Linked DNA regions of Homo sapiens. The protein of the gene in region 1 purifies or fractionates together with the protein of each later gene. This does not show direct contact. Each region holds a gene or a part of one and is shown in the gene's direction. Other genes may lie near its edges.

Evidence for each region.
Region 2: the proteins of SELE (region 1) and SBF1 purify together in Homo sapiens (affinity purification with mass spectrometry; 2 studies listed by BioGRID and IntAct, with this or other methods). This does not show direct contact.

The regions. Positions count from the first base shown.
Region 1 is NC_000001.11:169,727,497-169,731,311, reverse strand, and holds part of SELE (E-selectin precursor), read left to right. Parts: intron 1-694; coding exon 695-880; intron 881-1,638; coding exon 1,639-1,824; intron 1,825-1,937; coding exon 1,938-2,126; intron 2,127-3,065; coding exon 3,066-3,254; intron 3,255-3,384; coding exon 3,385-3,573; intron 3,574-3,786; coding exon 3,787-3,815. UniProt on the Homo sapiens protein: Cell-surface glycoprotein having a role in immunoadhesion. Mediates in the adhesion of blood neutrophils in cytokine-activated endothelium through interaction with SELPLG/PSGL1. May have a role in capillary morphogenesis.
Region 2 is NC_000022.11:50,450,721-50,454,535, reverse strand, and holds part of SBF1 (myotubularin-related protein 5), read left to right. Parts: coding exon 1-24; intron 25-3,815. UniProt on the Homo sapiens protein: Acts as an adapter for the phosphatase MTMR2 to regulate MTMR2 catalytic activity and subcellular location. Promotes the exchange of GDP to GTP, converting inactive GDP-bound Rab proteins into their active GTP-bound form.

The DNA.
Region 1 (3,815 bases):
AGATGAGCTTCTCTCCAAGATTCCTTAGCACAGCGTTGTGCAGTAGAGCTTTTGTGATAATGGAAATGTTCCATAGCTGTGTTTTCCAGTGTGTACCTATGAGCCACATGTGGTTATTGAGTACTTGAAATGTGGCTGGTGACACTGAGGAACTGAATTTTAAATGTTATTTGATTTCAACGAATTCAAGTTTAAATTTGAGTAGCCACACAGATAGTGGCTACTATAGTAGACAGTGCAGCATTAGGGTTTTAAAATTTGTAATGTATTCTAGTACTTAAATTTGAAATATAGCTTTGTGAATGGTTCTCATCCTGGTTGGAAGCTTACTGTAGTATTTTTAGCAGTTGTGAGAAAAGTAACAAGAAATTTGTTGTGGTACCTAAGTTTGCTGTGTTTGTTCATATAATTTGAACAGTTTTGAGGTAAACACAATTACACTACTCTCCCCATATCACTCAATATTTCTTTTTTATGGTTGTCATCACTGCTTTTTTGTTGTTGTTGTTATGGATCAGCATTTTCTTGAATAAAAGAAAAGGGGTAGAATTACAGTCAATTTTACAAATTCCATTAGAAATTTTATAAATTTTTAAACTAAAAAAAAAAAAAACCAAACTGTAGTTCTAGTTTCCAGTGTTCTTATCTGTTAAAGGTGAGAGATGAGCAGAACTGATTTGGGTTTCTTTTTCAGTTGTGAACTGTACAGCCCTGGAATCCCCTGAGCATGGAAGCCTGGTTTGCAGTCACCCACTGGGAAACTTCAGCTACAATTCTTCCTGCTCTATCAGCTGTGATAGGGGTTACCTGCCAAGCAGCATGGAGACCATGCAGTGTATGTCCTCTGGAGAATGGAGTGCTCCTATTCCAGCCTGCAATGGTAAATCCCTCTGAGAATGCACAGAACGTTCTGTAACTCATCCCTCATTGCTTCTGTTTTTTGATTCAACTTACATTTTCAAAACTTCAGGGAAAGTTTTTTTTTTGTTTTTGTTTTTAATACAATTTGTTCTCTCAGCCAATGTATATTGCCAACCCAGTACCTGCTTGGGTTGAGAGAGGTTTTTTTATTCTATGCTTGAAATGGGTGTTTCTGAGGCTCTGGTGATTTGTAAGGGAGACCATAAAACAATAAAGCTCTAGAAATCTCAATGGATTTCTCATCTTGTTTCCCTGTTTAACTTTTCCAAGCCATGGGACTAACTTAAGACCATGATAGTCAAGCAGTCTTAGTATCTCTTTTTCTCTCTTAATTTTATCTTTCTGAACCAGAGGCCAAAAAAAGAAAAATCAGTTCTTCAGGCTCTGATGGGCTAAAATAAATGAATAGCCTACGTATGTCAGTACTAGTCATAACTCCTAATCTGGAATCTATTTTTTTTAAATTTTTACCTCACGTAAATGATAACATAGATTAGAGACCACTCAGCATAGGCAAAGTGGAAATCAGAAAAGATAGAATATCCATGAAAAAGAATAAAAGCTTTTATTCTGGCTGTGCATGTCCCTAAGAATTGACATAGGACTTTGGGATCTACCCTTTGAAGGCAGCTTCCTCACTCTGTTAGGCACCCAGCTCAATAGGAAGTGAAAAGATCATTCTTCTGTAAAATTCATGGTGCTCTTTAAAATCCTCAGTGGTTGAGTGTGATGCTGTGACAAATCCAGCCAATGGGTTCGTGGAATGTTTCCAAAACCCTGGAAGCTTCCCATGGAACACAACCTGTACATTTGACTGTGAAGAAGGATTTGAACTAATGGGAGCCCAGAGCCTTCAGTGTACCTCATCTGGGAATTGGGACAACGAGAAGCCAACGTGTAAAGGTAGAGTTGTTCCACATGGAGACTTACTGTGAACATTCTTTCTCTCAACCCATACTGGAAATGGGCAAGCTAATTCTAGGCCGTGCTAATATCAATGCGTATATTTGTTACAGCTGTGACATGCAGGGCCGTCCGCCAGCCTCAGAATGGCTCTGTGAGGTGCAGCCATTCCCCTGCTGGAGAGTTCACCTTCAAATCATCCTGCAACTTCACCTGTGAGGAAGGCTTCATGTTGCAGGGACCAGCCCAGGTTGAATGCACCACTCAAGGGCAGTGGACACAGCAAATCCCAGTTTGTGAAGGTAAGCTTGAGATCCTTCGATTTATACTTTCTTAAAGAACAACCATCTTCAAACTTGGACAGTGAAAAAAAAAACCAATACCCACTTTAACTATAGAAATCAGATTTGATGAGCAACCCTCGTATCTTTGAGATTCATTTAAAAGAACTAATGTTTGGCCAGGGAAAGGATCATATGTGTTAAGAATGAATTCTTTGCTGTTTTTTTTTAACTGTGATGTGCTGATAAAACTTTGTAGACATTAGCATGGAATAGACAGAATTCTTAATCTAAAGGAATCATATTAGAAAATTCGGAAAGCAGAATAATGAGAACATGATTTGAATGTAAAACTCTCATCACACCTGTCTTCTGAAATGGCTCATAATTAGCAGTGATGAGACTGTTTCAAGCATGGTGTCAGCTACAGAGATAGTATTGATGCATATATAAGCAGTAAATTTTAATTCACTTTAAAGTGAGAGCAAGGATATTGAAAACAAGCAGTTTTTACTATCAGGCACTGGCCTTGTCCTAGCCAAAGCCAGCACAGAATGATTTCCAGTAGCAAAACATAACACAAAAACCAAACTGCAAAACAGACAAATTTTATAGGGGTGCTTTCTTTTCTTTCTTTTTGGCACCATCTATAAACATCCATGACCCATATGTTGTCCTCAGACTGCGTGAAATCTTTCCTTGGACCATAATTTATTTTGTGTGTTAGAAGAACAGTGCTCAGGAACTAATGTTCTGATTAATTAGTCTTTTAATTAGTGCCATGATCAGTGAGGGGGCTGAAATTCAAAGAAAACACAGCCATCTTCCCATTTGTCCAGGGAATTATAAAGAATCTTCAGTTCTCCAAGTGTTGCTTGAATGAACTGGGTTCACTCAACAAACGCCAAGTACTCTCTAGTTCCACTGCAATATTTTCTGACCATCATTTTGATGTCTCAGCTTTCCAGTGCACAGCCTTGTCCAACCCCGAGCGAGGCTACATGAATTGTCTTCCTAGTGCTTCTGGCAGTTTCCGTTATGGGTCCAGCTGTGAGTTCTCCTGTGAGCAGGGTTTTGTGTTGAAGGGATCCAAAAGGCTCCAATGTGGCCCCACAGGGGAGTGGGACAACGAGAAGCCCACATGTGAAGGTACAGTCTTTGTTTTTATTTTATTTTAAGATAAAAAGAACTATTGAAGAGCTTGGGAACTTGGTTACCTTGGGAAACGTATTGCTGGAGATGCAAACAAACTTCTAAAGTGCTCTCTCGTGTGTTCCAGCTGTGAGATGCGATGCTGTCCACCAGCCCCCGAAGGGTTTGGTGAGGTGTGCTCATTCCCCTATTGGAGAATTCACCTACAAGTCCTCTTGTGCCTTCAGCTGTGAGGAGGGATTTGAATTACATGGATCAACTCAACTTGAGTGCACATCTCAGGGACAATGGACAGAAGAGGTTCCTTCCTGCCAAGGTAGAATTGAGTGCAGACTTTTTTAGGGTACAGGTCAAATACTTCATAAAGTTTCTGAACCTAGATTGCCCCAAAGGGGTTTGGTCCTAATTTCCTACATGCTGAAAACTAAGTAGCGCTTACACTTTACATTCATTGTTGACTTTTAAGCAAGTTTTGGAAGTTTTCCAGTAGATTTTTCTGAAACTCTGCCTGTGTACCTAACATTTGCAGTGGTAAAATGTTCAAGCCTGGCAGTTCCG
Region 2 (3,815 bases), on another chromosome or scaffold:
GACGCCATCTCACGCCTGCTGGAGGTGCGTGTGATCCCAGAGCAGGGTCTGGCCTGGCACCCCCCTCCTCTCGCTCAGACACCAGGGTCGTGCGTGTGTGTGTACACTCGTACATGCACGTAAGTCCGGTTACCCCTGGGGGTTGGTGTGGCCCTGCCGTCTCCCCACCATGTGAACTGCCTACTGGCCTGGGGTGGCTGTGGCTCCCCAGGGCCCCGCACCACTCAGTGGGTGCTTCCAGACAGTGACAGGAGGGCCGTCATCAGAGACCCTCAGGTCTCAGTACACAGCCTCCACTCTGAGCACGTGTGTTTTCCCTGACCTGGCTTTGAGCAGCTCAGGCACCTGTTGAGGAGTCAGCCCTTAGAGACGACAGTGTTTTACTCCCTCTGCCAGACCGCCTGCCCCACCTAACGTGAGCAGCTCTGGGTTCTTGCCCTGAGAGCTTGGGGTTGACATTGAGGCCTCTCTTACCCCTCACTGTGCCATCCCTGGTGGGCCTGGACTGAACAAGGCAGAGATGCCTGGGAGGGAGAAAGGAGACTGCGATTGGGTGGTGGCTGGGTTGGTGTGTAAGGCCTGAGGCAGTGTCCTGCGCGTGGTGCTACCTTTTGGGGCCATCCCGGAGTCTCTGTGGGACTGAGCAGGCAGAGGAGTGTGGACCTTGGACCTAGGCCACGGGGGGACCTGCACTCAGCTCCCCACTGTTGGCTGTGTGGCCTTAGAGGTTATCTTTTTTTTTTTATTTTGAGATGGAGTCTCGCTCTGTCGCCCAGGCTGGAGTGTAGTGGCGCGATCTCCGCTCACTGCAAGCTCCGTCTCCCGGGTTCACACCATTCTCCTGCCTCAGCCTCTCGAGTAGCTGGGACTACAGGTGCCCACCACCACGCCCAGCTAATTTTTTGTATTTTTAGTGGAGACGGGGTTTTACCGTGTTAGCCAGGATGGTCTCGATCTCCTGACCTCGTGATCCACCTGCCTCGGCCTCCCAAAGTGCTGGGATTACAGGCGTGAGCCACCGTGCCTGGCCTAGTTATCTAAGCATCTTAGAGCTTCTGGTTCCTTGTGCAGAAAGTGGAAATGCTGATTCCTGCCTTACAGGGAAGTTGTGAGGCTTAAATGAGTCATTTATTTCAGTGACTTAGCATGGGGCACAGGGTTTGGGGGAGTACGGGAGTCATGGTTTGTGATGGAGGTGACCCACAAAGCACAGACAGCAGTCCCTTTTTCTCTCTAGCGATGCTCATTGTCTTAAAGTTGACGCGGTCTCATTGGTGCTAACAGAGTCACTCAGCTTTGTCATGACCAGTGTCAGCTTGCTCTGTTGTTTTCTTGTATTTTTTACTGGTCTGTGTGTTTATGTTTAAGGTGAGTTTCTTGTACACAGAATGTAGATGTAGTTGGGTCTTCTTGTTATCCAGTCTAATGGGTTTTTTTAATTGGAATTTTTAGCCCATTTTAATTTACTGTTACTATTGATGTGGCTGGGTTTAAGTCTGTCATCTTGCTCTTTGTTTTCTCTTTGTCCCTTTGATTTTTTTTCCTTTCTTTCTTTTCTTTTTTTAAAAAACAAGTGTTTTTAGTATTCTGTCTACTGTGAGTTGAGCTGTACATCTCTGTGTTGTGTTTCAGGGGTTGCTGGGGGCTATAATCATCTGACTTGAAATTACATCACCCTGTTGACACCAGAAGAGCCTTACGGCAGTGTGTGTCCATTCATGCCTTTCCTGTCCTGTTACTGTCACACATTTTATTTTTACGTATGACATAAACACCCAGTATGGTTTTTTTTTTTTTTTTTTTTTTTTTTTTGAGAGATGGAGTCTCCCTCAGTCACCCAGGCTGGAGAGCGGTGGTGCGATCTCGGTTCACTGCAACCTCTGCCTCTGAGTTCAGGTGATTCTCCTGTCTCAGCCTCCCAAGTAGCTGGGATTAGAGGCACCCACCATCATGCCCGGCTAAATTTTTTTTGTATTTTTAGTAGAGACGGGGTTTCACTGTGTTGGCCAGGCTAGTCTCAAACTCCTGACCTCAGGTGATCCGCCCGCCTTGGCCTTGCAAAGTGCTGGGATTACAGGCGTGAGCCACCGTGCCCGGCCCTGTTTTTGTTTTAAATAGTCAACTTTGTTTTAAGGAAATTAAGAAAGAAGGAAAAAGTCTTCTATTTTTGCCATTTATAACATTCTTCATTCTTTCAGTATAATCTGGTCTGGTTATTATTTCTCTTCAGCCTGAAGAATTTTTAATATTTCTTGTAATGCAGAGCTGCCAGTCACAAATCCCCTCAGCTTTTGTTTATCTGAAAACATCTTGGTGCCTTTATTTTGCAAAGGGCATTTTCTCTGGATATGCATTTCTAGGTTGACAGCTGCTTCTTTTTTTTTTTTTTTTTTTTAATTCAGCAGTTAAACTGATGTCACTTTAAAAGATCTCATTACTAGGCTGGGCGCAGCGGCTCACGCCTGTCATCCCAGCACTTTGGGAGGCTGAGGCAGGTGGATAACCTGAGGTCAGGAGTTCGAGACCAGCCTGGCAAATATGGTGAAACCCCGTCTCTACTAAAATATAAAAATGAGCTGAGCATGGTGGCGGGTGCCTGTAATCCCAGCTACTCAGGAGGCTGAGGCAGGAGAATCGCTTCAACCCGGGAGGTGGAGGCTGCACTGAGCTGAGATCGCGCCACTGCACTGCAGCCTGGGCGACATGAGTGAGACTCTGCCTCAAAAAAAAAAAAAAAAAAGATATTACTTTGTTTTCTGGCCTGTATTGTTTCTGCTTAGAAGTTGGTGTTGATTCTTATCCTTATAAACTGTGTATAATGGCACCCTTTGATTCTCTGCCTTAAGATTTTGCATTTAATTTTGGCTTCAGCAATTTGACCATTGTGGTTTTTGCTTTCGTCCTGCTTGGGGCTCTTTAAACTTCTGGGTCTGTGGGATGATCATTTTTGTCAAATTTAATACATTTCAAGCCATTGCTTCTATAAATTACTTTTTCTGCATGATCTCTCCCTTTCCTTCTGGAACTTTATTGTCCCATACGTTGCTGAAGCTCTGTTTGTTTTTTCTCAGTCTTTATCTTTGCAATTCATTTTGGATGATTTCTGTTGGCTTGTCTTCAAGTTCACTACTCTTTTCTTTCTTGTTTTTAATATACTGAAGCCCATCAAATGAATTTTTTTTTAATTTCTTGAGACAGGGTCTTGCTCTGTTGCCCAGGCTGGAGTGCAGTGGCACAGTCATGGCTCACTGCAGCCCGAACCTCCCAGGCTCAAACAATCATCCTGCTTCATTCAGCCTCTTGAGTTGCCAAGACTACTGGCGTGGGCCACGTGCCGGCTACTTTTTTTTTTTTTTTTTTTTTTTTTTTGTAGAGATGGGGTCTCCCTATGTCACCCAGGCAGGTCTCAAACTCCTGGGCTCAAGCAGTCCTCTCACCTTGGCCTCCTAAAGTGCTGGGATTACAGGCATGAGCCACCACACCCGGCCCCATCTAATGAATTTAACGCTTTTTATTGTAGAGATTCCCCATCTGATAAACCATTATGTCCATCTTTTCTTTTAAATCTTGAAACATAACTTAAAAATATATATAAAGATGGGGTCTTGCCATGTTGCCCAAGCTGTTCTCACACTCCTTGGGTCAAGCGATTCTCCCTCCTCGGCCTCCCGAAGTGCTGGGCTTACAGGCGGGAGCCACTGTGCCCTGCCTGTGTTGTCTTTCTTTAAGCTTAGAGTCTTGGGTTTTATTCTCGCAGGTAGGTAATGAGCTTGTGCGTCAGCTTGGTCTGTTTGAAGCTTGTTTCTAAGCTTTGT